Linked DNA regions of Homo sapiens. The protein of the gene in region 5 purifies or fractionates together with the protein of the main gene of each other region. This does not show direct contact. Each region holds a gene or a part of one and is shown on either strand. Other genes may lie near its edges. The genes, in order: CASC3, ZNF687, PGK2, YBX2, PRDM5, BAG1 and FBXO11.

Region 1 (4,274 bases), on a different chromosome or scaffold from region 5:
GGGGTCAAGCAATTCTCCTGCCTCAGCCTCCTAAATAGCTGGGATTATAGGCGCCCACTACCGCGCCTGGCTAATTTTTGTATGTTTAGTAGAGACCAGGTTTCACCATGTTGGCCAGGCTGGTCTTGAACTCCTGATTTCGTGATCTGCCTGCCTTGGCCGCCCAAAGTGCTGGGTTTATAGGCGTGAGCCACCGTGCCTGGCTGCATTTCAATTTTCTACTCTTTAGGAATACATTTATCAATAAATTTTTAGTACAACATAGAACTGAAAAGCAAACAAATCAATATTCTTACCCATATTTCTAGAAAATAAAGATCCTATTTTGGCCTGGCACAGTGGCTCACGCCTGTAATCACATTTTGGGAGGCCAATGCAGGCAGATCACCTGCGGTCAGGAGTGTGAGACCAACCTGGCCAGCATGGCAAAACCCCATCTCTACTAGAAATATAAGAATTAGCCGCACTTGGTGGTAGGCACCTGTAATCCCAGCTGCTCGGGAGGCTGAGGCAGGAAAATCGTTTGAACCAGGGAGGCAGAGCTTGCAGTGAGCAGAGACTGCGCCACTGCACTTCAGCCTGGGCGACAGAGCAAGGCTCTGTCGCAAAAAATAGTAATAATAAAAAAAAGACACTATTTTAAAAATATCACATTAAAAAAAATACACACATACATACATATATATCCACATAGGTATTCCTGGAACATATGCAAGAATTATTAAAAGTGGCAGGCTGGGCGCAGTGGCTTACACCTGTAATCCCAGCACTTTGGGAGGCCGAGGCAGGCGTATCACTTGAGGTCAGGAGTTCGAGACCAGCCTGGCCAACATGGTGAAACTCTGTCTCTACTAAAAATACAAAAATTAGCCGGGAGGCGGAGGTTGCAGTGAGCCAAGTTTGTGCCACTGCACTCCAGCCTGGGTGACAAAAGCAAAACTCCATCTCGAAAAAGCAAAACAAAAAAACAAAAAAACAGCGGCAGCCTCTAATGGGCCCAGAGGATAAGAATGGAAGGGAGACTTACTATACGATACCTAACATATAAGAGGAGCTTAATCTTCCTTGATAATCTCTCTCTCCATGAATTATCTTTTTTTTTTTTTCTGTTTTGAGACAGGGTCTTGCTCTGTTGCCCAGGAGTGCAGTGGCACAATCATGGCTTACTGCAATCTCAATCTCCTGGGCTCAAGTGATCCTCCCACCTCAGCCTCCCAAGTAGCTGCGACTACAGGCACATGCCACCACACCTGGCTGATTTTTTTTTATTTTTAGTAGAGACGAGGTCTCGCTATGTTGCCTAGGCAGTTCTCAAACTGCTGAGCTCAAGCAATCCTCCTCCCTTGGCCTCCCAAAGGGCTGGGATTACAGGCATGAACACTGTACCTGGCCCATGAATTGTCTCTTAAACATGCAGTGCCTAATAACTATACTTTGACGTAAGTTGTGAACTCTCCCATCTCAAAATGGCTTAGAGCAGAAATTCCCAACCTTTTTGATTATGCGGACCCCTTTTTAGGATCTAAAAATTTTCATGGATCCCCATGAGATATTCACTGAGAAAACATACAATGACAAACAACTGCTAGGCTGGATGTAGTGGTTCACGCCTGTAATCCCAACACTCTGGGAGGCCGAGGTAGGTGGATCACTTGAGGTCCGGAGTTTGAGACCAGCCTGGCCAACATGGTGAAACCCTGTCTCTACTAAAAATACAAAAATCAGCCAGACATGGTGGCATGAATTTGTAATCCCAGCTATTTGGGAGGCTGAGGCAAGAGAATTGCTTAAACCCAGGAGGTGGAGGTTGCAGTGAGCCAAGATTGCACCACTGATACTAGTCTGGGCAAAAGAGTGAGACCCTGTCAAAAAAAAAAAAAAAAAAAAAAAAATTCGCCAGGAATGGTGGTGTGCGCCTATAGTCCCAGCAACTTGGGAGGCTGAGGTGTGAGATCATTTCAGCCCAGGAGGTAGAGGTTGCAGTGAGCCATAATTGTGCCACTGCGCTCCAGTCTTAGCAACAGAGAGAGATCCTGTCTCAAAAAAAAAAAAAAAAAAACACACAATGAACTGATGCGTGCGTGCCTGTAGTCCCAGCTACTCAGGAGGCTGAGGCGGGAGAATCACTTTAACCTGGGAGGCAGAGGTTGCAGTGAACCGAGATCGCACCACTGCACTCCAACCTGGACAACAGAGACTGTCTCAAAAACAAACAAAAAACAACAAACTGTTATACATTCAATAACACTTTAAGTTTACATTTTATTAATTTACATATATTCAAAAATAGTAGTACATAAGGGGGGAGATGTATATTTTAGTCTATAGATAATGAGAACTGAATGAGTAGACATGCAACTCTTTTTTGAGACAGGGTCTCACTCTGTCGCCCAGGCTGGAGTGCAGTGGTGTGATCTCAACTGACTATAGCCTTGACTTCCTGGGCTCAAGTAATCCTCCCACCTCAGCCCCCACAAGTAGCTGGGACTACAGATGTACACCACTATGCCCAACTAATTTTTGTATTTTTTGTAGAGACAGAGTTTCACCACATTACCCAGGCTGGTCTGAAACTTCTGAGCTCAAGCGAACCTCCTGCCTCAGCCTCCCAAAGTGCTAGGATTACAGGCATGAGCCACTGCGCCCAACCAGATGTGCAAACTCTTGATAATGACTCCATGATTTCCCAATGCACTTATCCTCAAGCTGGAAAATGGTAGCTTTTTTTAATGCCTATGAGTACTGGTTTTCTGCAGCAGAAAATTCCTGCAGCCAGAACATATCCAGAATCACATAATTACAAAAATTTGACCTAAAAAACCTTAAAGGACAACTTGTACAACCATCACATTTCAGAAATGAAAAAAATTAGTCCAAGTGCTCTCTCTCTCTTTTTACTATCTTCTTCCCTCTTTTACCACATCAAGATTGGGTAACACTGTTCATGACACAGAAAGTGCTGGGTCTACACACAAAGGATCATTAGGCCATTAGAAAGGGCCAGGAAATGGACGTGTGGCTAGTTCTAGGTAGGAAAAGGCAGCAGCTAAGGCTCATGATAAGGGAACTGGCTTTAGAATAGGGTTACTCTCCTCTCCTTGTCCTCCCCAGATTTGGACCTAAGGAGGCAGAGCTATGGCTAGGGAGGCCTACGAGAACACAGAGAAATGGGTTCAAGGAAAGGTGGTCTAGTCTTCATTGGTGGGTTACATCTGAAACCTGGTAGATGTATGTACACTGGTCTCTCACTCACCTACTGGGTCTGATACTTGAACTGAACCAGACTGCCCTGTCACTCAAGACCCAGGCTGGCCCCAATAATCTGGTCAAAGAGGCTCAACATGAGATTCCTGAATTCCTGATTGAGAAACTCTCAAACTCTAAGTTTCTGCCATCTCTTCAAATAGAGCTGAGTCAGCCTGATTGGCCCAGACAAGCCAATTAATCCCTCTTCCTCATTTTTCCCTGCTCAGCATCTGGGTATAGTTGACGCTGGAACAAGGGGTTTGAACTACTCAGGTCCACTTCTACGCAAATTTTTTTTCAATAGAAGTTGCAGCAAGTATGCCTGCCTCTCCTTCCACTGCCTCTGTCACCCAAGGCAGCAAGATCAACCCCTCCTCTTCTGAAGTCTACTCAATGCAAAGATGATGAAGACCTTTATGATGATCCACTTCCACTGAATAGTATGTTTCCTTAATAGTGAATGATTTCTTAATAACATTTTCTTTTCTCTAGCTTCATTGTAAGAGTACAGTACATAATACACATAAAATATAAAATACATATTCACTGACTGTTTATGTTATTGGTATGGCTTCCAGTTGACTTAGTAGTTAAGTTTTGGGTGAGTCAAAAGTTATACTTGGAATTCTTACTGCAACAGGGATAGGTGTCCTTTATATTTTATTTATTATTTATTTATTTTGGAGACAGAGTCTTGCTCTGTCGCCCAGGCTGGAGTGCAATGGCGCGATCTCAGCTCACTGCAACCTCCACCTCCTGGGTTCAAGCAATTCTTATGCCTCAGCCTCCTGAGTAGCAGGGACTACAGGCGTATGCCACCACTCCCAGCTATTTTCGTACTTTTAGTAGAGATAAGGTTTCACCATGTTGCCCAGGCTGGTCTCAAAGTCCTGAGCTCAGGCAAGCCGCCCACCTCGGCCTCCTGAGGTGCTGGGATTACAGGCATGAGGCACCACGCCCAGCCCCTTTTAATTAATTAATTAATTAATTTATTTATTTATTTATTTATTTATTTGAGACGGAGTCTC
Region 2 (4,274 bases), on a different chromosome or scaffold from region 5:
ATGCCCACCCCGGGACCATACATTTATTCTCTGGGACTGGGTAGACTACAAGAAGGAAATCAGTAGTGGAGCATGAGCAGGGTGGAGAAAGGAGAGAGGTGCAGAGGCTGTGCCCCAAGGGAGGCTGCCAAGGGAGAGCTGGAGCTCCAGAGGTGGCCCTGCTTCCCCCCATCTCCATGGGGGACGACGGGAAGGCAGGACGTACTATCTCAGGGTTGAGTCTGGCAAAACAACAGGGCTGAGGGATATAGCAGGGAAGATAGGGGATCTTGAAAGGCCATCTGAGGCTGAGGCTAGGACACACGAAACCCTACAGTTCTATGGAGGAAGGGTCCGAGGCACCTGTATCCTACACGGCGAGAGACGTGCAGACAGGCCTCCCGGAGATGGGTCTGAAAATTGGCTTGCAGGAAGTTGCCCCCACACTCAGGACAGACATGGGGGGGTCGATTCTTATGCATGCGCTGGTGGGCGCTGAAGCTGCAGCGATTGGGGAGCATCATGGGGCAGGTTGGGCACACCTGTCGAGTGGGTTAAACAAGGAAAGTCGGTGAGGAGTGTCCTGTCTCCATTACTTCTAACCAAGCCCCCAACGCCTTCCTAGATCCTGTCCCCACAGAAGGGCTGTGAAAGGTGACTCACATTGCTGGTGGCCCCAGGGGCAGGGGGGCCGAGCTGCTGGAAGTGAGCTGCCATGCCAGCCTTGTCCCGGCACTGTTCCTTGCACTCCAGGCAGCGAAAGCATGTGTAAGCAGAGGTGGCCGGGGCAGCAGGCGGCTCTGTGGAGAGCGGCAGGACAGGGGCCTCAGCAGCAACTGTAGTAATGGCAGAGGAGGTGATGGCCCCCTCACCCTTGCCCAAGGCAGGCAAGGCCAGAGGTCCAGAGACAGGTGGGACAGCTACAGGCAGCAGCGGTGTGATGTCCGGCTGCCCCACCATCTGGTCAAGGGCTACAGGCCTCATGACCAAATGTGAGCACTGCATGACGAGCCCCTTGTCCTTGTGTTCACGTGCATGCAGGAGCAGGCTGCACTTGTTGAAGAAGACCAGGCGGCGGGCGCAGTGGTTGCAGGTGACCTCGATGCGCATGCTCCGACGGTCATAGTGCCGTGCCAGGCTCTTCTCCAATGAGAAGGCATCCCCACACTCCAGGCAGCGGTAGCCGGTGGGAGGCAGGGCCAGCCCAGCCTCAGCTGGTGGGCTCAGGTTTGGCCTATAGGCAGGGAGCAGGTTCTTGCTGTTGAGGATCTTGTTGAAGGCCTCCACCAGGCTGGACTGGGTCCGTGATATCACTGTGCCGCCCCCTGTACTTGGCCCAGTAGCTGTCTTTGAAGGTTGCACCATCACCACCGAGGCACCATTCACCTTCTGTCCCCCAGTCCCCAGCCCTGCCCGCCCGTCAGCCTTAGGCAGGGCTTGGGGCACCAGGCCTAGCACGTTCTTAGCAATCATCTTAGGGCTGGTGGCAGTCCCCCCAGGCAGCACCACAGCCTTGCGAGCCACACTGGCTGCCATCAGCATGGCAGTACTGGCGTTCTGGATGGTGGCCACAGGCAGCACAGTGCCTTTCAGCCTTGTACCATCACCCAACTGTACGCTCACCACCTTTGGACCCTCAGAAGTAGGTGTTGCAGGGGACAGCTTCAAGAGGCTAGCCTCAGCCAAGAAGGCCCCCTCAGCCAAGGGGGCAGGTGGATCAGGATCTGAGGGGACCTGAGTTACAGTCCTTGTGATATTCCCGCAGGATGTTTTAATGGTCTTGATCCGCACCTTAAGAGGCCTAGAGGAGCTGGAGGCAGGGGAGTCATTGCTGTCCTCATCTGCAGCCTCGGCCCCACTAGAGGGACTCTGGGGACTTCCTGGGGAAGACTTGTCCACTGGCCCCTCATCATCATCTTCTTCCTTCAAGGGCTGACAGACGGGCACTTTGGGGGAGGCAAGAGGGCTCTGGTGCCCTGGAGACTGCTTGAAGAAGGGCACCCCAGCAACTGGGGGAGGCGAGGCACTGGCAGGGATGTCCGTGGCCTTAGGGCTGGAGCCTGAGCCTTGTTGGGCTAGGACCTGGGGATGATGGGGGCTGCAGCTCTCCTGCTTCAAGGCCCCCAATGGTGGGGAAGAAACAGGTGGCTGCATGCCTGGGCCATTCTCCTGGGCCAGCTCAAAGGAAGAGGGGAAAGGAGGCGGGGTCAGAGCCCCCTCCCGAGTGGGAGAGGGTGCAGAGGGAGGCAGCGGATCTGAGTGGTCCCCTGGCTCAGGGCCAAAATGAGCAAACAGGTCCAAGGGAGTTTTGCCTTCCATGCCTTTTTCTTTCCAGGTGCCCCCACTGGGAGGAGCAGGAGAGTGGGGAGTTCCTGGGAGGGAAGGTTCAGGGCTCCCAAAACCATTCTGCATTCGATGAGGCCCCACAGGCCCTTCTTTAGTTACCCCAGCAGCCTGGGCCCCGTCTCCTGCTGAGCCTCCAGCCAGGGCCTCAGACTGCTCGGGACACACAGTGTTCTTGACAATGACACTGACTACAGAAATGTCTGGCGGTGGCAGGCCATGGTCAGAGGCCTGGGCTGGAACTCCAGGGCCATCCCCAGCAGAGGCTGCTGCTGTGTCTTCAGATTCACTTCCTACACCTGGTTCTGGCTTCCCTGGGCCTCCAGGCCCCTCATTTTCTTCTGGCCCAGAATGGATGGCTTCATTCGCATCAATGTCAGGGATGTCAAAGGCAGCAAGGAGGTCATCAAAATCAGGGGTCTTCATATCCCCCATATCGGCAGATCCCAGACCTGATGAAAACAGGAACGAGGAGGAGAAACTGAGATGTCTAGAAGAGAGATCCTGGAGCTCTTCCCTCAGCATCTCCATATTTATCCTCTCTCAGAACCCACATACACTCCAACTTAGGTACACCTCCGCCACGGCATGAATCCTACAGAGCTGCTAGGTTTGCCAAACCTTAAAATCAGAAGAGGATTAGTGTCCATACCTTGGTGGGCTCCAAAATCCAGAGAAAGCAGGGGAAAAGAGAGTTCTTAGAAATACAGGGAAGGGGCCAGGTGCGGTGGCTCATGCTTGTAATCCCAGCGTTTTGGGAGGCTGAGGCAGATGGATCACTTGAGGTCAGGAGTTTGAGACCAGCTTGGCCAACATGGTGAAACCTTGTCTCTACTAAAAATACAAAAAACTAGACAGGTGTGGTGGCACATGCCTGTAATCGCAGCTACAAAGGAGGCTGAGGCAGGAGAATCGCCTGAACCCATGAGGTTGAGGTTTCAATGAGCCAAGATCACGCCACTGCACTCCAGCCTGGACAGAGCGAGACCCTGTCTCAAAAAAAAGAAATATAGGGGGCTGGGCATGGTGGCTCACGCCTGTAATCCCAGCACTTGGGGAGGCAGAGGCGGGCGGATCACGAGGTCAGGAGATCAAGACCATCCTGGCCAAGATAGTGAAACCCCGTCTCTACTAAAAATACAAAAATTAGCTGGGCATGGCAGCACACACCTGTAGTCCCAGCTACTCGGGAGGCTGAGGCAGAAGAATTGCTTGAACCTGGGAGGTGGAGTTTGCAGTGAGCTGAGATCGTGCCACTGCACTCCCACCTGGGCGACAGAGCAAGACTGTCTCAGAAAAAAAAAAAAAATACAGGGAACAGGGAAGGGTAATAGAGCTCAGTGAGCATTCTGGTGGAAACCATCTCATCCCCTCCGGTCCCCAGCATAGAACCAAATAATCAATACTATTATTAAGGAGGATGATGTACATGATGTTCTAGGTTTAAGGACTCATTCATGTCCGCATGGAATCAATTCATATTCTTCACGGATCTTCTGGGGTCCACACAGATCTGAAAGGCTGCATGTACAAAGGGACAATGCCATAAGCCAAGACTTAAGAAATGATCCTCGTTCAGCTTTATCAGGGGCGTGCAGTACAAGCAAGTTTCTTCAGTGCCTTACTTTTGCTGTTTGAAAGAGGACACAAATGGCCGGGTGTGGTGGCTCACATCTGTAATCCCAGCACTTTGGGAGGCCAATCACTTGGGCCCAGGAGTTCAAGACCACCCTGGGCAACATGGTGAAACTCCCCAGGCATGATGGCACGTGCCTGTAGTCCCAGCTATGCCTCCCAGCTGACATGGGAGGATCCCCTGAGCCCGGGAGGTCGAGGCTGTGATGGGCCATGATCATGCCACTGCACTCCAGCCTGGGTGACAGAGTGATACCGTCTCAAAAAAAAAAAAAAAAAAAAAAAAAAAGACAAGACAAGGCAGAGAGCACAAGTGA
Region 3 (4,351 bases), on a different chromosome or scaffold from region 5:
CTTTTGCAAAGTTACTTAAGTCATTTCCTTTTTTTGTCCACATCACCTGTAGTAAAATTTCCACATCACATGTAGTAAAATTTCCTATATATTACGATACAGTTAGGCTTATCTGTCAGAGGCTACATTATATAATACGATTCCCTAACACTCTGGATCATATTTTTTATTTGCATTCATTAAAGTTTACTCTCTACAACGTACGATTCTATGAATTTTGACAAGTGCATAGAATGTTGTATCCACCACTCCAGTACCTCATAGAAAAGTTTACCACACTAAAAATCCTCCTGTGTATCCCCATTATAGTTGACCACGCTCTCTTAACCTGTAGCAACCACTGATATGTTTTCCATCCCTATAGTTTTGCCTTTTATCAAATGTCATACAAATGGAATTATACAATAACTACAAAATTTTTTTGCCTGGCGTCTTTCAGTTAGTAAGGCACATTTAAGTTTTATCCAGGGCTTTTGTGTAAGTAAATAGCTTGTTTCTTTTCTTTTTTTAAAAAATAATATTCCATTGCATGGATATATCACAGTTTATTTATTTATTACTTGAAGAATATACAATTTTGGTAATTATTAATAAAACTGCTCTAAACGTTTGTTTACAGAAGTTTGAGAGAATACAGGTTTTTGATGTCCTTGGATGAATATCTAGAAATAGGATTGATGACTTGTATGGTAAGTCTATGCATATTTCTAAGAAATTGCCAAGCTGTTTCCCAAAATGTCTGTAGCATATTTCATTCCTGGGAGCAACAAATGAGAGTTTCTGTTACTATATATTTTAACACCATTTAAGTTTGCTTTTAAATGCTGTTGACTCGATGTTCAACATTGAGGAACCGATAAACTGTTTTTTAAAGTGGCTGCACCATTAGACATTCCTATCAGCAATAAATGAGGATTCCAATTTGTCCACTTCTTTCTCAACACTTGTTTTTATTTTTTATTTTAGCCATCTTAATAGGAGATGCCTCAAATATATTTCTGTCAAAGCCTTCATTTTACATATTTAGTTCACTCAACTTATGGAGTAGAATGAAAAAAACTGTAAAGCCAATTTTCATTACTAAACCAACTAGCCACATACATTTGCTTTCTCCAAAAATAGAATATCTTACTCACTTTCAATTCTAATATATGTTTTCATCTTCATGAAAACCATGCATTTATTTTTCAGCTCAATTTCTAAGTTGTACAGGTAGGAAAGCAAACAGAGAGGAGACAAAAAATAAGGAGCCTCATCATAACATTGTAGTCTGAAAGAAATGTCACCATTACTTTCAGCACTTGTTACTGATACTCTCTTTGCTATGATCTTATGGGATTCTCCTGCAGAAGTGACCAAACATTCTTTCATGGTAGTCTGAAAATGGAAGAAGCAAAGTAATGAAAATATGACAGCATTCCCACCACGTCCCAGAATAGATCTAAAGATGAAGACTAACAACAAGCCACATCCTCAAAGAAATATTTATCAAGACAAGGAAAAAACAGAACTATACTATCCTGACTTGAATAAGCAAGGTTTCATATGAAAATCATTATTTCAAATATTCCTTTTATTTGGCACTGCAGAGGTTTTTACATATCAAAATGGTTAAGATTTGACATGAATGAGGTGTATGTAGGTTTGCGGGGGTGGGGGTGGAGTTCTTTTTGTTTTGTTTTTAATAATAAAAGCAACTGTTAACCGAGCTGTGGGGTGGGGGCAAAAAGAGCCAGAAGGCGGCGCACACCTCAGGACTATTCTTGTTTTTTTAGAACCATTCTTATTCTGGGGTTTCTTCACCTACCCAAGTCTCGCCTGAAGCCAGGTACAGCTCTATTCCACTACATGACCCTCTGCCCAGGAAGTTGGAATCTTCACCTAGCAACACAGTTCAGATCGAGATTGACAGGACCATGAGCCAATCACAAAGCTAGATTTGCTTTCCAGTCTAACAGTGGCCGTTGTGCTGGAGACAGTGAGGAGAAGAAAGGGGCGGGACAAGGGCAAAGGCGTTAGAAGTCACCACCGACCCAGCCCCTCAACAGCAAGTTGGTTCTTCAGCATTAAGATCCAGGTGTCAGCCTATGTCTTTATATTGTCAAGATGTCTCTTTCTAAGAAGTTGACTTTAGACAAACTGGATGTTAGAGGGAAGCGAGTCATCATGAGAGTAGACTTCAATGTTCCCATGAAGAAGAACCAGATTACAAACAACCAGAGGATCAAGGCTTCCATCCCAAGCATCAAGTACTGCCTGGACAATGGAGCCAAGGCAGTAGTTCTTATGAGTCATCTAGGTCGGCCTGATGGTGTTCCCATGCCTGACAAATATTCCTTAGCACCTGTTGCTGTTGAGCTCAAATCCTTGCTGGGCAAGGATGTTCTGTTCCTGAAGGACTGTGTAGGCGCAGAAGTGGAGAAAGCCTGTGCCAACCCAGCTCCTGGTTCAGTCATCCTGCTGGAGAACCTGCGCTTTCATGTGGAGGAAGAAGGGAAGGGCCAAGATCCCTCTGGAAAGAAGATTAAAGCTGAGCCAGATAAAATAGAAGCCTTCCGAGCATCACTTTCCAAGCTAGGGGACGTCTATGTCAATGATGCTTTTGGCACTGCACACCGCGCTCATAGTTCCATGGTGGGAGTGAATCTGCCCCATAAAGCATCCGGATTCTTGATGAAGAAGGAACTAGATTACTTTGCTAAAGCCTTGGAAAACCCAGTGAGACCCTTTCTGGCTATACTTGGTGGAGCCAAAGTGGCAGACAAGATCCAACTTATCAAAAATATGCTGGACAAAGTCAATGAGATGATTATTGGTGGTGGAATGGCTTATACCTTCCTTAAGGTACTCAACAACATGGAGATTGGTGCTTCCCTGTTTGATGAAGAGGGAGCCAAGATCGTTAAAGATATCATGGCCAAAGCACAAAAGAATGGTGTAAGGATTACTTTTCCTGTTGATTTTGTTACTGGGGACAAGTTTGACGAGAACGCTCAGGTTGGAAAAGCCACTGTAGCATCTGGCATATCTCCTGGCTGGATGGGTTTGGACTGTGGTCCTGAGAGCAACAAGAATCATGCTCAAGTTGTGGCTCAAGCAAGGCTAATTGTTTGGAATGGGCCGTTAGGAGTATTTGAATGGGATGCCTTTGCTAAGGGAACCAAAGCCCTCATGGATGAAATTGTGAAAGCCACTTCCAAGGGCTGCATCACTGTTATAGGGGGTGGAGACACTGCTACTTGCTGTGCCAAATGGAACACTGAAGATAAAGTCAGCCATGTCAGCACTGGAGGCGGTGCCAGTCTAGAGCTTCTGGAAGGTAAAATCCTTCCTGGAGTAGAGGCCCTCAGCAACATGTAGTTAATATAGTGTTACTTCCTTCTGTTTTCTGTCCATGGCCCTTAAGTCAGCTTAATGCTTTTACATCTCGATGTGACTTTTGTTAAAATCTACTCCTAGATCAAGACCTATGTAATGGACAAGCAGCAGGCCATCAGGAACTCTTAATATCAGCACAGCAATTCATTTTAGTTTGGTCACGCATTTGCCTGTTCAAGTTCTCATTTGAACTTCACCATTGTGCTATCTAGGGAGGACATATTCTTAAGTTGCCTATTAAAGAAAGTGAGCTGAAGAAACTGAATCTTTTTATTTTAGTCCAACTTTGCTATTGTTTCATAATTTGAAACCCAAAAGATAAAACTTAATTTGTTGGGAAAGGGTGGAATGAAAGTTGACAAACAAACAATAAATATGCCCAAATAAACTGAGAAAAATAATTACATATAAAGAACTCATGGGTACCATTAAAGTTCTGCTAAGGGGAAATGTTATACTAAATAGGACCAAAAAAAAGAGAAATGAAAGACACTTATTAAACCCAAGGAATTTTTAAAAAGAAAAGAAATTAAACTCAAGGTAAGAATTATGTTTGTGTGCATATCAATGCACAAGATTACACACAAATGCCAGCTAGAAAAAGAGCTACAAGTTAAACCCAAGTTGTAAATAAGTAATTGTTTTATTTTTAAGGCAGGCATTATTTAATAAATAGATAATATAACTGGTAAGTTCTAAAACTTGGTTTTTGAGATAAATAAAATATATATACATAGCTGGTTTAATAATGGGAAAATAGAGATAAAAATTCTCTATTAGAAAACAGAAGATAAAATGATAAGAAATGTAGAAAAAACAAAAACACTTATTGGAAAATATTTTGCTTTATTCTGTAGACAGAGGTAGTTTAGGGCAATGCTATTAACAAGAATAGTAATTAAGAGTAAAAATGCAGATTAACCTTTCCCAGCTATAATGTCTTATGTCCCATAACCGCAGATCAATTGTGATA
Region 4 (4,886 bases), on a different chromosome or scaffold from region 5:
CGCGCCCGGCCCATTTTCTTAATCTTCCCAGGCTCCCGAGAAACCTGGTACAAGCCTCGCACTGCCCCTCAGTCCTCTCATCTGTGGAATGGGGGCCGTTCATGTATTCGATAAATATTGAACGTGTACGTTGTACCAGGCACTGCTGCAGGCGTCCAGCTTAACTACAAGGCTCTTACTGCTGTGGAGTTTACAGCCCACTGTGTGCAGGGAAATAAAATAAGCAAATGGTCAGGATCATGTCATATTTTCAAAAATGCCATTAGAAAAATAAGGAATGGTGTGATGGCGAAGAGTGGCACGTAAGCTGCTGCTTGGAGAGAGCCACCTGGAGACACGAAGGCGCGTTTTCGGCAGAGGAAACCGCATGTGCAAAAGGCCTCGAGTCCGCTGGAGCTTGACGCCTGGCCGGAGACCACAGCCCCCGGCATACAGACGTGAGAGACCCCAAAGCCAGTCTAGGGCGGTAGACATCAGAGCTGCAGCGGTCGGTATGGGCCACATGGGTGGACACATTGATCAAAACTCAGCGAAGGCCGGGCACGGTGGCTTACCCTGTCATCCCAACACTTTGGGAGGCTGAGGCGGGCGGATCACCAGAGGTCAGGAGTTCGAGACCAGCCTGGCCAATATGGTGAAACCCCATCTCTACTAAAAATACAGAAATTAGCCAGGTTGTGGTGGCGCAAGCCTGTAATTCCAGGTACTCAGGAGGCTGAGGAGGGAGAATCGCTTGAACCCGGGAGGCAGAGGCTGCAGTGAGCCCAGATCGCGCACTGCGCTCCAGCCCGGGCGACAGAGGGAGACCTTGTGTCAAAACAAACAAACAAACAAACTCAGCGAAGAAGAATTGCGCATTGTACTACTTGTAAACCTTGTTTCCAATACAAACATAGGTAGGGGCAGGCCGGGAGCCACCTTGAGGTGGCTCAAGGCAGGAGAATCGCTTGAACCAGGGAGGCGGAGGTTGTAGCGAGCCGAGATCGCGCCACTGCACTCTAGTCTGGGCGACAGGGCGAGACCCTGTCTCAAAAAAAAAAAAAAAAAGAAAAGAAAAGAAAAAGAAAGAAAAAAGAAAAGTAGGGGGTCCTGGCTCATGGGAGCAAGTGTGAGCCGGGAAAACCATTCTGCTGCGCTTTCCAGCCTATCCTGCGGTTGGATCCCGCAGCCCCAGGGTGTGCAGGGCCGTCCTGTGGGGAGAGGGTGCCAAGGGCGGTGGTGGCCGGAAGGCGTCTGCACCTGGCAGCATACGGGCAAGGTCGGTCTCGAGGGTGGAGGCGAGCGGTGCTACTCACTGCCAGAACCGAGGCTGCAGATTCCCGCCCCTCGCTCAGGTCGTTAGGGGCAACCTTGGCACTGCGGCCCCGGCCCCGCCCTTCCCGCAGAGGCCAGGTGGCGGTTGGGGCGCGACCGGCCCGTTTGATTTCCCGCGGCCGGTGGAAAGGGGCGGAGGGGGGAGGGGAAAGGGGCCGCCGGCCAATGGGTTGGGCCGGGGGCCGTCACGTGGCGGCCAGGGGGCGGGGCCCAGGTGTACTTACTGGGCGGCTGGCGGGGGCCGGGGCCGCGGTGCGAAGTCCGGGAGGCGGGGTCGGCGTGCGGTCCGGGGGTGCTGCTGGGCTGGGATTGGCCCGTGGTCGGGAGGCGGGGTCTGCGCGAGCGGCGGCAGCGGGCTGCCATTGGCCTCGGCTCCGGGCCCGCTGCCGGCGTGTGGGCGAGGCTCGGGGCGCGAGGACCGAGCAGGGCGGTGGGTTCGCGAGCCGGGGGGAGGGGCCGGGGCGGTGGCGGCTGTGGCCGGTACTGGACCCGGCGGGATGAGCGAGGTGGAGGCGGCAGCGGGGGCTACAGCGGTCCCCGCGGCGACGGTGCCCGCGACGGCGGCAGGGGTGGTAGCGGTGGTGGTACCGGTGCCCGCAGGGGAGCCGCAGAAAGGCGGCGGGGCGGGCGGCGGGGGCGGAGCCGCCTCGGGCCCCGCTGCTGGGACCCCCTCGGCGCCGGGCTCCCGCACCCCTGGCAATCCGGCGACGGCGGTCTCGGGAACCCCCGCCCCCCCGGCCCGGAGTCAGGCGGACAAGCCGGTGCTGGGTGAGGGGCAGGCGCGCACAGGGCGGCTCTGAGGGGTCGGCGGGCTGGGGGAGGGGCAGTGTGGAGCCCGGCAGGATCCGGAAAACCAAAGGCGGCCTGGCCCGCAGGCCCAGAGCGCTAACTGGGCTGGGAGCTGCGCACCAAAGTGGATTCCCCTGGTGGGAAATCCTGCCGTACCTTCCTGGGAGAGAGGGCGGGGCCGGCAGGTTCAGCTAAGGTCTTGGGGTGGAGAATAAAGCCCCAGGGTCCGGCCACGCCCCCGGGCGGGACACAGTGCCTAGTTGACTGGGTTAGAACTAGGCAAACCTCTGAGCCTGGCAAGCAGGTGCACTGGGGACCCTTGCATTGGGAGGGCTAGAAAAACCCTCAGTTATGACCTGGGGGCGGCACTTTGCAGACCAGGTGAGTACCCAGTTCTAGGTGAAGGGGCTGGATTTGTAGGATGTGGGGAACGTGACTTAGAGTTGGAAGGCTTTTTGAAAGCCTGAGTCCCTGTGTGGGTGATTTCATTTGGTGGACTAGGGTAGGAATACCTTGAAGCTACTAGTGAAACCTGGTTGGCTTGAAGGTAACCTGAATAGGTAATAAGGCAGTAGGCTAGATTTTTTTTTGTTTTGGAGTGTCTCAAAACTGAGTTCAACTCCATCTCTTCCCCCCATCTCACTGTCCCCACTGCATCTCTGCCTGGCAGCAATCCAAGTCCTGGGCACTGTCAAATGGTTCAACGTCCGGAATGGTTACGGATTCATCAACAGGTATCCAAGGAACCCAGGGCGGGGGTGGAATGGGTGTCTTCCCAGCTGGCCTGTGGGACTGGACACCCGCCCAACCTCATCGACCCCTGCGGAGGCACATGGTTGCAATGTCCAGCTGATGCTGGTTGAAAGCCTTTAACCGCAGCACAAATGTGTGCTTCGTGACAAGAGGAAGCCTCCTCCGCATCTTCAAGGGTAGCGGAGGATTAATGATTCAGGAACTTGGCAAACCTGGCTCTGACCCTGCCAGCTTCTCATCTCACCTTCTGGAATTGCTTCATTACTTTTACTCTGACATGCCTTTGGGGCAGAATGTATTATAGGGTTCTCTGTGCCTCAGGGCCCCCGGCTGGAATCCTCAACTGATTTCCTGTTATGGCAGCACTCACAACTCAACTCCCTTAAAGAGCTGTGGCTCATTCGAGCCCTCCACCTGTTGGGACTGAGGCTGACAGTGGGGGTCAGGAGGAAGGAGCCAGAGGCTGCTGCTTTCCTTCAGTAGGCAGCCCCACCCCTCAGCACCGGGAGAGGCTGTGGCAGTGGATTCTGAGCAGAGCCAGGTCTCCCCCAGTGGGCCCTTCCCCAGCCCAGGCATCCTGCCCGGCCTGGCTCTCCTGGGAGGCCCTAGTTCCCTCTTAGCAGGCTGACCTTTGTGCAGATCCAAGTGCTTTAAAGCTAAAACGTTTGTTCTGGGGAAGGGTCCCTGTCTAATTCTGGAAATGGCAGACTGGGTCGGGGGCAGAGTGCCTCCAGGAAAACTTTTCCTTTCTCCCCTCCCCCCACCCACTGGGGTTCTTATGATAGAGAATGGGTGAATGTTTTCTTCTCTCTCACCCTTGGTCCCACGCGTGTTGAGAGTGGTCCTGACTCTGGGATTCACCTCCAGGCTGAGGATGAGAATAAAGTTTGGCAGCTGTTTAGAGCAAGTTCCTGACACATTGTTCCCTTCTCAAACTTGTTCTGCCCCTCTGGCCCCATCTGCACTTTCTGCCTCCTTGACTATAGAAGGAAGAAGACTGGAATTTTCCAACCCTGATGGGGGTTGGGGGAGGGGGTGTTGGCCAGGGACAGTTGCACCCAGCGCTGGCAGGTTGTAAGGCTAGCCTGGGGTGGAAGGTGGAGTCCCGGCAGGGGCAGAGCTGTCTGAGGTTCCTCAAGGTGCCTTTGCCTCCCCAGCCTGCCCTTTCCTTGTGAAGTCCAGGTTTGGCACTGAGGTTTTAGGTGTATCTCTCTTTACACCAGCTTCTGGGGGCCCTGCTGGCTCTCCCTCCCATTCCCCAGGCCATGTCCACCCCTAACTGGAATGCTGGAGAGGATGGGCCCACTGAGCTTAGACTGGGCATCTAGGGGGACCTCAGTGAGGAGCTGAGGGCTTTGTTGAAGTCCCTTCCTTAACGACCCATCCTGTTCTGCAGGAATGACACCAAGGAAGATGTCTTTGTTCACCAGGTAAGAGCTAGGTTAGCTTTCTGAGGGGAAGAACCGGCCGTCTTTGAAGGCCTTTGCTGTAATCCTTAGCAGTGCGCTCCGCCATGTTTCTCTGGCTCTTCTTCACAACGGCCCATCCGCCTTGGGTGCCTGTGTCAACCACCATTAGCCGCACTTGTGCTGGGTTACTAAACGTCCGTCAGAATTGAGCATGTTACCCCTGGGCATGGCACGCTTACTACCCACCGGGACCTGTTAACACTCCAGGAAGCACTGAGGCAGTTTTCAGAGGGAGAAGGTCCTTGGGTGCAGTGGTTCTCAAAGCGTGGCCCCTGCACCAGCGGCAGCAGCATCACCTGACATCCGAATTCTCAGGTCCCACCCCAGACCTGGTGAATCAATCAGAGCTGGGGCTGGGGCTCCACAATCGGTTTAACGAGCTCTCCAGGTGATTCTGATGCACGCTACAGCTTGAGAACCACTGCTTGGTGGAAAGAGCTCTCACTGGGACTGAGGTAAGAAGCACAGTGCATTCTACCCACTTTGCGACTGAAGGCTGTCCCTGCCTTTTGCTTTGGAGTTCATATTTCTTGCCTCCCTTTCTGAAATCCCTGAGGGGTA
Region 5 (4,274 bases):
AATCTACCACCTTTGCTTTCAGTTTTTTTGTTCTCATTCACTTGAGAAATAGGATTAAAGTGACTATGTGTAGACTGTGCTGTGGAGTATGTATTTAATATGATGTTGATCAGCACATTAATCACAGGCTTTATGAAGATGCATCGTGACATTTGGCCAGGAAAATCAACTTTGATAACTGAGTGAGTAAATGAGTTATTTTAGGGAAATAAAGTTAGATATCAGTTAGTGAAAAGAATGGGAAAACCAGAAATGGCTAAAATAGGGAGGACAAAATACTACGTCTTATGCAATATGAAAATTAAAACCCATTTATTTAACTTTAAAATATGAAAGCTGTTGTTAGAAACTTACATCAGCTTTCTGGCTCAAAATGTGAAGAATAACTTGTAATGATTTTGGAAATTGTTGCTATTTCCCAATATGTTGAAAACCAAAAGGCAAGTTGCTGGCTAGCTTGTAGGTACTAAGATAGGGAAAAAATCTGATAAATTTAACACAAAGAAATCTGCAATTAAAGTATGAAAGAAGGAAGGTAAGAACTTCCTTGCTATAGCTTGATGAGATTTTGTACAGGGACCAACATTTTTATTCACTTGATAGTTTAATGAAAATGCTTTGATAGGAACAATCTTAGAGGTTTTTTTAAAAAGATCTCTTTCAGTACCTGAATCGATTTGATATTAACATTAATGTTTACAGTCTTTTATCAATTGATATTTCCTTATGCTATCACTGATTATACAACTTATACAAACAGAATGTTTAAATAAAACAGAAAGTATAAAGATAGTGTATAAGAATAATACTCTGCAACAAAAACACACAAAAAACCAAGCTCTCAGAATCCACATAGTTCATGCATTGTATGGACGTGACTTTGTTTCAGACATTAAATTTCAAAAGGACTCTAAGAGACTTTAAGTTAGAGAGGGATAATTCTATTTAGAAAGACAAAGAGAAGGTAATTTTTCTTTTCCTTTTCTCCTTCTTTTTGTCCCTCCCTCCCTTCCTTCCTTTCTTCCTTCCTTTCATGTGAAGAAATAATAGAGTCTTCATATTTCTAAATTTAGTGCTAGTTATGATGGAAGGAATTTAGAAGAGCTTGGCTAAAATTGAGATAATCTCTTATTTAGATATAGAAATTTAATTATTCTTAATTTTGCCTTGTTATCAATATGATATGGGAATCTATGTTAATATGATTGTTTTCTAAAAAGGGAAATTATATTCAAATACTAGTCTGTCTTATTTATATAGTCACATACTACATACATTTTATACCGTATTGTTATTAAACATCGTGTTCTCATTGCACACATTCATTGCTGAAATTGTATTTAAAATGGCCACTAAAACTTAGGCCCATGTGTTAAGAAGAACTATAAAAATAGCATTATATGAAAGTTAGAAAGTACCATAAGATTTCTATATATGTTTTCTGAGGTTGCTTTCCCCTCAGCCCCAGGCTGGATAATGAGAAGAAAGTGAAATACCCAGGGTGGCTAATAGTCTTGCTATCCCAATTTAATTCCTCTCTGAAAGACCCCATCCCTCAAAGCCTTGGAGACTTTTTCCAACTGCCCAAGGGCTGAATCAGGGAGCCTCCAGTCCAGGAAGCAGGGGCATTGTAACTTTCCCTCTCCCAGAATGGGAGGGCCTGAGCTCTGATGCACACCCTCTGCCCTCAGAGGCTTTCCTCCTCAGCTCTCTACCTACAATCCAATTCTGCCTATTATCTATTCACAGGAGGTTATAGGGACCGTGGTGGGATTTGAGGGAACTTTGGGAGGGGCCCAAAGGCAACTCACCTTGCTTGACAGAGGTCTTGTGTCACTGGAGTCTATTTACCTCAAATCCCAGCCCCCGCTGTAGAAGTACATACTTTTAAAAAATGTTCATGGTAACTTTGAGAATTCTGCTAATTCAGTCCCCACGTTTTCCAGTTGAGAAGACTGAAGATGTAAGATGAAAGGACTTCTGCCTAGTCACACAGTGAATTAGCAAATAATGGAACTGGAATTTGTTGTAAAAAATAAAAAGTTAACATTCTTAGAGCTACAAAGCCAACATTTTGGAGAAAGCAACTAAGTCTGGCATACATGGGAGGAAATTAATAGGACCCTGCTATTGCTTCTTAAATGTTTCTCTTTGTTTCTAAGGTGAGAGGACTTTCAAGTGCCATCACTGCGATGCTACCTTTAAGAGGAAGGATACATTAAATGTTCATGTCCAGGTGGTTCATGAAAGACACAAGAAGTATAGGTGTGAGCTATGTAATAAGGCCTTTGTTACACCTTCAGTGCTTAGAAGTCATAAGAAAGTAAGTGGAAGTCTTCTGTTAGTTTGAACAGATTACGTGTTTAAGCAGTATGGGTATATATGTTAACTAACATGTGATAATTATATATTAATCTATCAAAATATTTACTCAAAATGACAAATGCATGATTTATATCAGCTCTTCAGACAATGTTCACTTTCTTCATCTTTCAGGATAGACCTATTTTTTTCCATGAATGAGAACCTGAGTTAGATGTAGACTCTTCATAACCCATAGCTTTGCTGATAGATGGCTTCTAAAAAGTACTCAATGAGCAGGAGCTTATCAATTTTTATATATTTTTGAATTAATGTAGGCTGTTTCTTTCTAAGAAATATGAGTAGTACTTTAATAATTTTATATTTCAAAGTGAATTCTTATGTTTATTGGCAAGTTAATAGACTGAACCCTTTTGTTATTGGGATAGGCTTTGATCTTTACCTCTCTAGAGCATAGGGAAGTTTCTGGTACAGAATGGGGACTCGATAAATACTTGCTTAACTCAAAGAAAATGTTCATATAGTGATTTGGAGATTTTTTTGTGTGTGTCTTATGCTACTTGGGTCATTACCTCAAGGGAATCAAGTTTATTTTTTACGTGCTCAATAATGCGTTTTAAAGTATATATTTTAAATAGTAAAATTTGTATTGTAACAAATACACTTAAAGGTTTTAATGTTGACTTTTTTCCTTATTTTGGAGACAGAGTCTCGCTCTGTTGCCCAGGCTGTAGTGCAGTGGTGTCATCATAGCTTACTGTATCCTTGAACACCTGGGCTCAAGTGATCCTCCTGTTGAAACCTCCCGAGTAGCTGAGACTAGTCATGTCTCACCATGCCCAGATAATTTTTTAAAATTTTTGTAGAGATAGGGTCTTGCTATGTTGCCCAGGATGGTCTTGAACTCCTGGGCTCAAGCTATCCTCCTCTGAAAGTGCTGGAATTACAGGCATGAGACACTGCACTCAGGCAGTGTTAACTTTAGAAGTAACCATGAAGTATGGTAGTTTTCTGCCATTAGTGTGTGATACTGAATGAATGTGAAGAAATAACTCCTGTTTCAGTATCTATCTATCTTATCTGTCCTTAATACAACTGTTTCAAAAGGATTGAATTGAGTAACTTTCTTTTCCTGTATTTTTTTAATATTTAATTTTTATGGGTACATAGTAGATATAGTTATATACAGGAGATATTATATATATATATTGTTTGTTTGTTTGTTTGTTTGTTTGAGTCAGAGTCTCACTCTGTCACCCAGGCTGGAGTGCAGTGGTGCCATCTCGGCTCTCCGCTCTCCACAACCTGTGCCTCCTGGGTTCAAGCAATTCTTGAGCCTCAAACTCCCAAGTAGCTGGGATTATAGGTGCCTGCTACCACGCCTGGCTAATTTTTTGTATTTTTAGTAGAGACGGAGTTTCACCATGCTGGCCAGGCTGGCCTTGAACTCTTGACCTCAAATGATGTGCCCGCCTTGGGTTCCCAAAGTTCTGGGATTGTAGGCATAAGTCACTGTGCCCAGCCTGAGATATTGTATTTTGATACAGGTATTCAGTGTATAATAATCACATCTAGGGCATATGGGTTCCTGTATTTTTAATGCTGAGTAATAATGATATTATCTGGTGTTTTTAGCTCTCTGAATAAACTAGTCTTTCAACTTTCTTTGCTTTAATTACTTTTTGCATGAATTTAACACATTTTTTGTTGACTTTCAATAAATAAAGGAAAAGTATAGTGAGCTTTCAAGAGAGATTACTTTGTCTGCAATAATAGTCACACAGTATATTCATAGTGTGTTGCTCATTTTAATCTCATAAATTTATTCAGTATTCTTAAAGTGAGCTGTTTCCATGCTTTCTTGTTCATATTTAAGGTAGTTTAGTATTATACCTTTAATGTCTTTTGAAACTAGCTAACCAAAATTGGAACCTAATAATAGATATATTTTT
Region 6 (3,512 bases), on a different chromosome or scaffold from region 5:
AAGAATGGCGCCACCAGCTCTGCCGTCTCTGGAGCGGAATTTACCTGATTTCTTCAGGGCTGCTGGGGGCAACTGGCCATTTGCCAATTTTCCTACTCTCACACTGGTTCTCAATGAAAAATAGTGTCTTTGTGATTTTGAGTAAAGCTCCTATCTGTTTTCTCCTTCTGTCTCTGTGGTTGTACTGTCCAGCAATCCACCTTTTCTGGAGAGGGCCACCTCTGCCCAAATTTTCCCAGCTGTTTGGACCTCTGGGTGCTTTCTTTGGGCTGGTGAGAGCTCTAATTTGCCTTGGGCCAGTTTCAGGTTTATAGGCCCCCTCAGTCTTCAGATACATGAGGGCTTCTTTGCTCTTGTGATCGTGTAGTCCCATAGCTGTAAAACCAGAATCACCAGGAGGTTGCACCTAGTCAGGAATATTGGGAATGGCCTAGAACAAGGTGTTTGGCACATAAGTAGACCACTTATCCCTCATTGTGACCTAATTCCAGAGCATCTGGCTGGGTTGTTGGGTTCTAGACTTTGTCCTCACCTCCCAGTGACCCTGACTAGCCACAGGCCATGAGATACCAGGGGGCCGTTCCTTGGATGGAGCCTGTGGTTGATGCAAGGCTTCCTTGTCCCCAAGCAAGTCTTCAGAAGGTTAGAACCCAGTGTTGACTGAGTCTGTGCTTGAAACCAGGCCAGAGCCATGGATTAGGAAGGGCAAAGAGAAGGCACCAGAATGAGTAAAGCAGGCAGGTGGTGAAGCCAACCATAAACTTCTCAGGAGTGACATGTGCTTCCTTCAAAGGCATTTTTGTTAACCATATCCTTCTGAGTTCTATGTTTCCTTCACAGCTGTTCTATCCATTTTGTGGACTGTCCCCCACCCCCACCCCATCATTGTTTTTAAAAAATTAAGGCCTGGCGCAGCAGCTCATGCCTATAATCCCAGCACTTTGGGAGGCTGAGGCGGGCGGATCACTTGAGGCCAGGAGTTTGAGACCAGCCCAGGCAACATAGCAAAACCCCATTCTGCTTTAAAAAAAAAAAAAAAAAAAATTAGCTTGGCGTAGTGGCATGTGCCTATAATCCCAGCTACTGGGGAGGCTGAGGCACAAGAATCATTTGAACCTGGGAGGTAGAGGTTGCTGTGAGCCGAGATTACGCCCCTGCACTCCAGCCTGGGTCACAGAGTGAGACTCCATCTCAGAAAAAAAAAAAATTGAGTCAGGTGCAGTAGCTCCTTCCTGTAGTCCCAGCTACTTGGGAGGCTGAGGCTAGAGGATCACTTGAGCCCAGGAGTTTGAGTCTAGTCTGGGCAACATAGCAAGACCCCATCTCTAAAATTTAAGTAAGTAAAAGTAGATAAATAAAAAGAAAAAAAAACTGTTTATGTGCTCATCATAAAGTAGAAGAGTGGTTTGCTTTTTTTTTTTTTTTTGGATTAATGAGGAAATCATTCTGTGGCTCTAGTCATAATTTATGCTTAATAACATTGATAGTAGCCCTTTGCGCTATAACTCTACCTAAAGACTCACATCATTTGGCAGAGAGAGAGTCGTTGAAGTCCCAGGAATTCAGGACTGGGCAGGTTAAGACCTCAGACAAGGTAGTAGAGGTAGACTTGTGGACAAGGCTCGGGTCCCAGCCCACCGCACCCCAACTTTAATCAGAGTGGTTCACTATTGATCTATTTTTGTGTGATAGCTGTGTGGCGTGGGCCACAACATTTAATGAGAAGTTACTGTGCACCAAACTGCCGAACACCATTCTAAACTATTCATATATATTAGTCATTTAATTCTTACATAACTTGAGAGGTAGACAGATATCCTTATTTTAGAGATGAGGAAACCAAGAGAACTTAGGTCATTAGCGCAAGGTTGTAGAGTAAGCGGCAAAGCCAAGACACAAAGCTGGGTGGTTTGGTTTCAGAGCCAGTGCTTTTCCCCTCTACTGTACTGCCTCTCAACCAACACAGGGTTGCACAGGCCCATTCTCTGATTTTTTTCCTCTTGTCCTCTGCCTCTCCCTCTAGCTCCCACTTCCTCTCTGCTCTAGTTCATTTTCTTTAGAGCAGCCCGAGTGATCATGAAGTGCAAATCTTGCCATGTCAGTCCCCTGCTTAGAACCCTCCAATGGCTCACTTTCTCTTTAGGCAAAAGTCTTTACCCCATGCCTTCTCCCATCTCATCTCAACCCCCTCATTTGTTGGCTGTCTGCTGTCAGCCACTCTTCTTTCAGGTCCTCAGATGCACTGCACCCTCTCCTGCCTGGGGGTCTTTGCTCCTGCTACTACCTCTGCTTGAACAGCTCCTCACCTTCCTTCCTCCAACCCTACCCTTGTATAGGTGACTTTTGTTCATCCTTCAGAATTCAACTCACATGTCTCTTGCATGGAGAACCCTCACCTACTGTGTTGAGACCCTGTCCAGCCCCCAGGTGGGATCCTCTCTCGACTTCCCATACATTTCTTTCACAGCATTTACATAGTCCATGATAGTTTACTTGTGGGATTATTTGGTTAATCTTTGCCTTTAACACCAGGGTTCCTTGGGTGAAGGAGCTTCTTTATCTTGGTAACAGCATTATTTCAAGCATAACTTGTAATATAGTTATATTACATATATAACATATATATATATAACATAACATATATAACATATATAACAAGCATAACTTGTTATATAGTCTTGTATATAGTAAGACCTCAATAAATATTTGGAGAACAAATGAATGTTGAATGCACACATCAATAGTGAAACTTCTATAGCTGCATTTGGCCTCAGAATCTCCGTCAGCATTGGAATTTACAGCCTTAACAGCCTTTATTGTCTTAAGGGTTGAGAAAAGAGGCCCTAATGCATGGACTGCTGGGCAGATGTGATAGGTGATTGCACAGGCCCCACCCACGCAGATCTGCTCACCCAAGGGGTTTCTGCCTGTGAAACTCTTCTCCCGTGAGAAGGGGAGAGAGCACCCCTTCTTCTCCCGTGAGAAGGGGAGAGAGCACCCCTTCTTCTCCCGTGAGAAGGGGAGAGAGCACCCCTTCTTCTCCCGTGAGAAGGGGAGAGAGCACCCCTTCTTCTCCCGTGAGAAGGGGAGAGAGCACCCCTTCTTCTCCCGTGAGAAGGGGAGAGAGCACCCCTTCTTCTCCCGTGAGAAGGGGAGAGAGCACCCCTTCTTCTCCCGTGAGAAGGGGAGAGAGCACCCCTTCTTCTCCCGTGAGAAGGGGAGAGAGCACCCCTTCTTCTCCCGTGAGAAGGGGAGAGAGCACCCCTTCTTCTCCCGTGAGAAGGGGAGAGAGCACCCCTTCTCAGGTGCCCACTTGCCTGGGACATGGTAAGTCTTACCACAGGGAGAACAGATGGGAATGTGTGCTCCCACAAACGAATTCTTCGGCCTCAGGGCTGGAAGGATTCTCCCACATTGTTTTTTGTTTTTGTTTTTTTTTGAGATGGGTTCTTGCTCTCTTGCCCAGGCTAGAGTGCAGTGGCTTGATCTCTGCTCACTGCAACCTCCACCTC
Region 7 (4,274 bases), on a different chromosome or scaffold from region 5:
CAGCCTGGGCAATATAGTGAGACCCCATCTCACCAAAAAAAATTGTTTTTTAGTTAGCTGGGTGGTGGTGCATGCCTGTAGCCCCAGCTGCTTGGGATACTGAGGCAGGAGGATTGCTTGAGGCCAAGAGGTTGAGGCTGCAGTGAGCTGTGATCGGGCCACTGCACTCCAGCCTGGGTGACAGAATGAGACCCTATCTCCAAAAAAAAAAAAAAAAGATGTTCATACACCAGACTACCCTCTGACACCCTTTTTAACCTACCTGGTATCTCATGCACTATATTGAGCCGTTCCTCTTCATAGACACACTCCTTGCCAAGCTGCCTTCACCATATATGGTCTCTAACCATGTAGTACCAGTTCCCTTCCCACTCCTCTCAGCAAGTGGATATCCTCCTCACCTTTTTTTAAAAAAAAGTCTTCCACGGCTGGGCGTGGTGGCTCACGCCTGTAATCCCAGCACTTTGGGAGGCCGAGGTGAGTGGATCACGAGGTCAGGAGATCAAGACCATCCTGGCTACCACGATGAAACCCCATCTTTACTAAAAATACAAAAAATTAGCTGGGCGTGGTGGCGGGCGCCTGTAGTCCCAGCTACTCGGGAGGCTGAGGCAGGAGAAAGGCGTGAACCCAGGAGGCGGAGCTTGCAGTGAGCCGAGATTGCGCCACTGCACTCCAGCCTGGGCGACAGAGCGAGACTCTGTCTCAAAAAAAAAAAAAATCTTCCACATTTTATAGAAATCTAACATTTCTTTCATATAGCTATCCAGTTGGTTGGAATTTCATATAAAACTTACATCTGCTCCCTCCCGAATTTGAAGTTTTAAGAAAGTTTTCTGTATCCATAGAACTTTTTTTAAAAAGGGTATAATTTTTCTTATTGCTTTTGTTTATAACAGATGATGATGTGCCTGCAGATATGGTTGCAGAAGAATCAGGTCCTGGTGCACAAAATAGTCCATACCAACTTCGTAGAAAAACTCTTTTGCCGAAAAGAACAGCGTGTCCCACAAAGAACAGTATGGAGGTAACTTTAACTGTAGTTGCTTTTCTTTTTGTAATGAAAGAATTTTCAAGAAACAAAAAAGGGAATGTCATCCTTTTTTAGAAGTAATGATTATGGATGATAAGAATATTTGCTTTACTAGTTTCTGTTTTGTTTTTGAAGGGCGCCTCAACTTCAACTACAGAAAACTTTGGTCATCGTGCAAAACGTGCAAGAGTGTCTGGAAAATCACAAGATCTATCAGGTATTTCCTGTGGGAAAGTAACAAATAGGGTAAAATAATTTTTTTTAATTTTGCTTGATACCAAAAAATGAAAATTAAGTGTATTCGAGTATTACCTTTGGGATTCAGAAAGTGATTATTACAGAATAAACTTTAGAACCCTGACCTCTCCCTCTGACTTTTATTGTTGTATAAAAATGCTTTTTATGTATTTATTTTAACCATTTCTGAGATGGCACATAATACCTAAAAGAAGGAGTACTTTTGTTAGTTCAGGATAGAGATAAATATGTGTTACCCATGAAACCCACATGCTTATAAAATGACCATTATCCAAAAAAAAAAAGCTATTCATTAGATAAAATGAAAACTGTGTTCTTTAAATAATGAGAAAGTTATTGCTCGAATGATAGTTTATATGTTAATCTCTTTATAGCAGCACCTGCTGAACAGTATCTTCAGGAGAAACTGCCAGATGAAGTGGTTCTAAAAATCTTCTCTTACTTGCTGGAACAGGATCTTTGTAGAGCAGCTTGTGTATGTAAACGCTTCAGTGAACTTGCTAATGATCCAATTTTGTGGTAAGTAAAAACCTATTCCTTATTAACTTGAGATATGTTATTTGTTGCCCAAAATGCTAAACATGGTAGGAAAGTCGGTGCGGTGAGTTGGTAGTTACAATTAGTTGGAACAAAATTAAAATGCTTATCAATTCCAAGTTACAAATGGGGGCTGTCAGTCCAGGTGGTATTTATAAATCAGTAAATGAAGTCTTTTATCTGCTGTTTATCAGTTAATAGCAACTGATTGATTATGGGAAATGTTTTTCTTTTAGTAGCTTTTTAGAAACATAACAGTGTAATTTAAAATAGCTAATGAATTTTAAATCTGATAGATTAGAATGTAGGTTTTATATATCACTTTTGGAAAACAGTTGTATTCATGAATCTTTAAATAATTCATGCCCTTTGACCCAGTAATTACTGGGTCATGCCCTTTGACCCAGTAATTCTACTTCTGAAAAGTTTTTTTTGCTTTATGTACAGATTTTTCGTAACAGCCTAGTTAATAATGAGAAAAATTATAAATAATCTAAATATCCAGAATTAAGGGAATGAACTACATAAACTGTGTAATGTGTACTTGGAGAGTTGTGATATAACCACTAATAGTAATTTTTACAAAGAGATTTTCATTTGTTTTTTGAGAGACAGGGTCTTGCTCTGTCACCCAGGCTGGAGTGCAGTGTCACGCTCCTAGCTCACTGCAGCCTCAACCCTCTGGGCTCAAGCCATTCTCCCACCTCAGCCTCCTGAGTAGCTGGCACCACAGGCATGTGTCACCATGCCCAGCTAATTTTTTTTTTTTTTTTTTTTTTGAGACAAAGGGTCTCACTCTGTTACTCAGTCTGATCTTGAACTCCTGGGGTCAAGTGATCCTTCTACCTCGGCCGCCCAAAGTGCTGGGATTATAGGCATGAGCCATTGCACCCAGCCCAGGTTTTTAATAAGATGAAAAAAATGCTGTTATAAAAAGTGAAAAGAGGCCAGGTGTGGTGGCTCCTGCCTGTGGTCCCAGCTACTCCGGAGGCTGAGGCAGGAGGATCATTTGAGCCCAGGAAGTCAAGGCTGCAGAAAGCCGTGATCGTGCCACTGCACTGCAGCCTGGGCGGCAGACGGAGACCCTGTTTTTTAAAGAAAAGAACAGAGTACAAAATTGTATATGCTATATAATCACAACTATAATAAATGATCTGTAGATAAAATGAGTGGAAGCAAATATGGCAGACTGTTAATAGTTAATATATTGAAACTATAGTTCTTTACACTTCTTTGTTTTACAACGGTTATATGTATTACTTTTATGATGCACAAAAGGTGCACCATATATATATATGTTTTTGTTGTTGTTTTTGACGGAGTTTCGTTCTTGTTGCCCAGGCTAGAGTGCAGTGGCACAATCTTGACTCACTGCAACCTCTGCCTCCCGGGTTCAAGCAATTCTCCTGCCTCAGCCTCCTGAGTAGCTGGGATTACAGGCACCTCCCACCATGCCCAGCTATTTTTTGTATTTTTAGTAGAGACAGGGTTTCACCATGTTGGCTAGGCTGGTCTTGAACTCCTGACCTCAGGTGATCCTCCTGCCTGGGCCTCCCAAAGTGCTGGGATTACAGGCATGGGCCACTGTGCCCGGCCCACACCTTACATTTAAGAGAAAAATTACAAAGGAGAAATGAGAATGAAGAGCAGCAGAACAAAACAGCATTGCTCACTGTACCAGAAATGATAATAGTTAGCCATTACTCCAGTTTGAAGATTTCATTGTGCTTGATAGGATATAAATGGACTGAAGATATAGGACAAATTAAGTTCAAAGTATTTTTACTGAAAATTATCTTTTTAGGCTAGGCGAAGTGGCTCACGCCTATAATCCCAGCACTTTGGGAGGCTGAAGTGGGCAGATTACTTGAGCCCAGGAGTTTGAGACCAGCCTGGGCAACATACTGGGACCTCATTTCTACAAAAAAAAATCAAAAAATAAGACAAGAGGATCACTTGAACCTGGGAGGTTAAGGCTGCAATGAGCCATGATCACGCCTCTGCACTCCAGTGTGGGCAACGGGAGTGAGACTCTGTCTCAAAAAGAAAAAGAAAGAAAATTATCTTTTTAAGTGATAATCATGATGTTTTTACAGTAAGGATAACTTTTTTTCCCCTTCCTGAGTAAACAGTTTGTAAGGAAATTGAAACTTTTTGTTGTTCTGTGTGGACAAATTTTCATACGCAGTTACATTGTGAAAATTTTTGCAGGAAAACTAATTTTCGGCCAGGCATGGTGGCTCACGCCTGTAATCCCAGCACTTAGGGAGGCTGAGGTGGGTAAATCACTTGAGCTCCAGAGTTCGAGACCAGCCTGGGTAACATGTGCCTGTAGTTCCAGCTACTTGGGAGGCTGAGGTGGGAGGATCATTTGAGCCCAGGAGGCAGAGGTTGCAGTGAACTGAGATCGTGGCACTGCACTCCAGCCTGGGTGATAGAAATAGAC

What was found.
Region 1: the proteins of PRDM5 (region 5) and CASC3 purify together in Homo sapiens (affinity purification with mass spectrometry; 2 studies listed by BioGRID and IntAct, with this or other methods). This does not show direct contact.
Region 2: the proteins of PRDM5 (region 5) and ZNF687 purify together in Homo sapiens (affinity purification with mass spectrometry; 2 studies listed by BioGRID and IntAct, with this or other methods). This does not show direct contact.
Region 3: the proteins of PRDM5 (region 5) and PGK2 purify together in Homo sapiens (affinity purification with mass spectrometry; 2 studies listed by BioGRID and IntAct, with this or other methods). This does not show direct contact.
Region 4: the proteins of PRDM5 (region 5) and YBX2 purify together in Homo sapiens (affinity purification with mass spectrometry; 2 studies listed by BioGRID and IntAct, with this or other methods). This does not show direct contact.
Region 6: the proteins of PRDM5 (region 5) and BAG1 purify together in Homo sapiens (affinity purification with mass spectrometry; 2 studies listed by BioGRID and IntAct, with this or other methods). This does not show direct contact.
Region 7: the proteins of PRDM5 (region 5) and FBXO11 purify together in Homo sapiens (affinity purification with mass spectrometry; 2 studies listed by BioGRID and IntAct, with this or other methods). This does not show direct contact.

What each region holds. Positions count from the first base shown.
Region 1 is NC_000017.11:40,157,330-40,161,603, reverse strand, and holds part of CASC3 (protein CASC3), read right to left. Parts: intron 1-4,274. UniProt on the Homo sapiens protein: Required for pre-mRNA splicing as component of the spliceosome. Core component of the splicing-dependent multiprotein exon junction complex (EJC) deposited at splice junctions on mRNAs.
Region 2 is NC_000001.11:151,284,775-151,289,048, reverse strand, and holds part of ZNF687 (zinc finger protein 687), read right to left. Parts: intron 3,844-4,274; exon of another isoform or gene 2,975-3,843; intron 2,775-2,974; coding exon of another isoform or gene 2,758-2,774; coding exon 643-2,757; intron 522-642; coding exon 343-521; intron 1-342. UniProt on the Homo sapiens protein: May be involved in transcriptional regulation.
Region 3 is NC_000006.12:49,784,943-49,789,293, reverse strand, and holds PGK2 (phosphoglycerate kinase 2), read left to right. Parts: upstream 1-2,008; 5' UTR 2,009-2,106; coding exon 2,107-3,360; 3' UTR 3,361-3,634; downstream 3,635-4,351. UniProt on the Homo sapiens protein: Essential for sperm motility and male fertility. Not required for the completion of spermatogenesis.
Region 4 is NC_000017.11:7,291,426-7,296,311, reverse strand, and holds the start of YBX2 (Y-box-binding protein 2), read left to right. Parts: upstream 1-1,672; 5' UTR 1,673-1,811; coding exon 1,812-2,082; intron 2,083-2,773; coding exon 2,774-2,837; intron 2,838-4,252; coding exon 4,253-4,286; intron 4,287-4,735; coding exon of another isoform or gene 4,736-4,780; intron 4,781-4,886. UniProt on the Homo sapiens protein: Major constituent of messenger ribonucleoprotein particles (mRNPs). Involved in the regulation of the stability and/or translation of germ cell mRNAs. Binds to Y-box consensus promoter element.
Region 5 is NC_000004.12:120,779,192-120,783,465, reverse strand, and holds part of PRDM5 (PR domain zinc finger protein 5), read left to right. Parts: intron 1-2,162; coding exon 2,163-2,323; intron 2,324-4,274. UniProt on the Homo sapiens protein: Sequence-specific DNA-binding transcription factor. Represses transcription at least in part by recruitment of the histone methyltransferase EHMT2/G9A and histone deacetylases such as HDAC1.
Region 6 is NC_000009.12:33,251,677-33,255,188, reverse strand, and holds the end of BAG1 (BAG family molecular chaperone regulator 1), read left to right. Parts: 3' UTR 1-2,718; downstream 2,719-3,512. UniProt on the Homo sapiens protein: Co-chaperone for HSP70 and HSC70 chaperone proteins. Acts as a nucleotide-exchange factor (NEF) promoting the release of ADP from the HSP70 and HSC70 proteins thereby triggering client/substrate protein release.
Region 7 is NC_000002.12:47,836,395-47,840,668, reverse strand, and holds part of FBXO11 (F-box only protein 11), read left to right. Parts: intron 1-899; coding exon 900-1,027; intron 1,028-1,168; coding exon 1,169-1,250; intron 1,251-1,665; coding exon 1,666-1,810; intron 1,811-4,274. UniProt on the Homo sapiens protein: Substrate recognition component of a SCF (SKP1-CUL1-F-box protein) E3 ubiquitin-protein ligase complex which mediates the ubiquitination and subsequent proteasomal degradation of target proteins, such as DTL/CDT2, BCL6, SNAI1 and PRDM1/BLIMP1.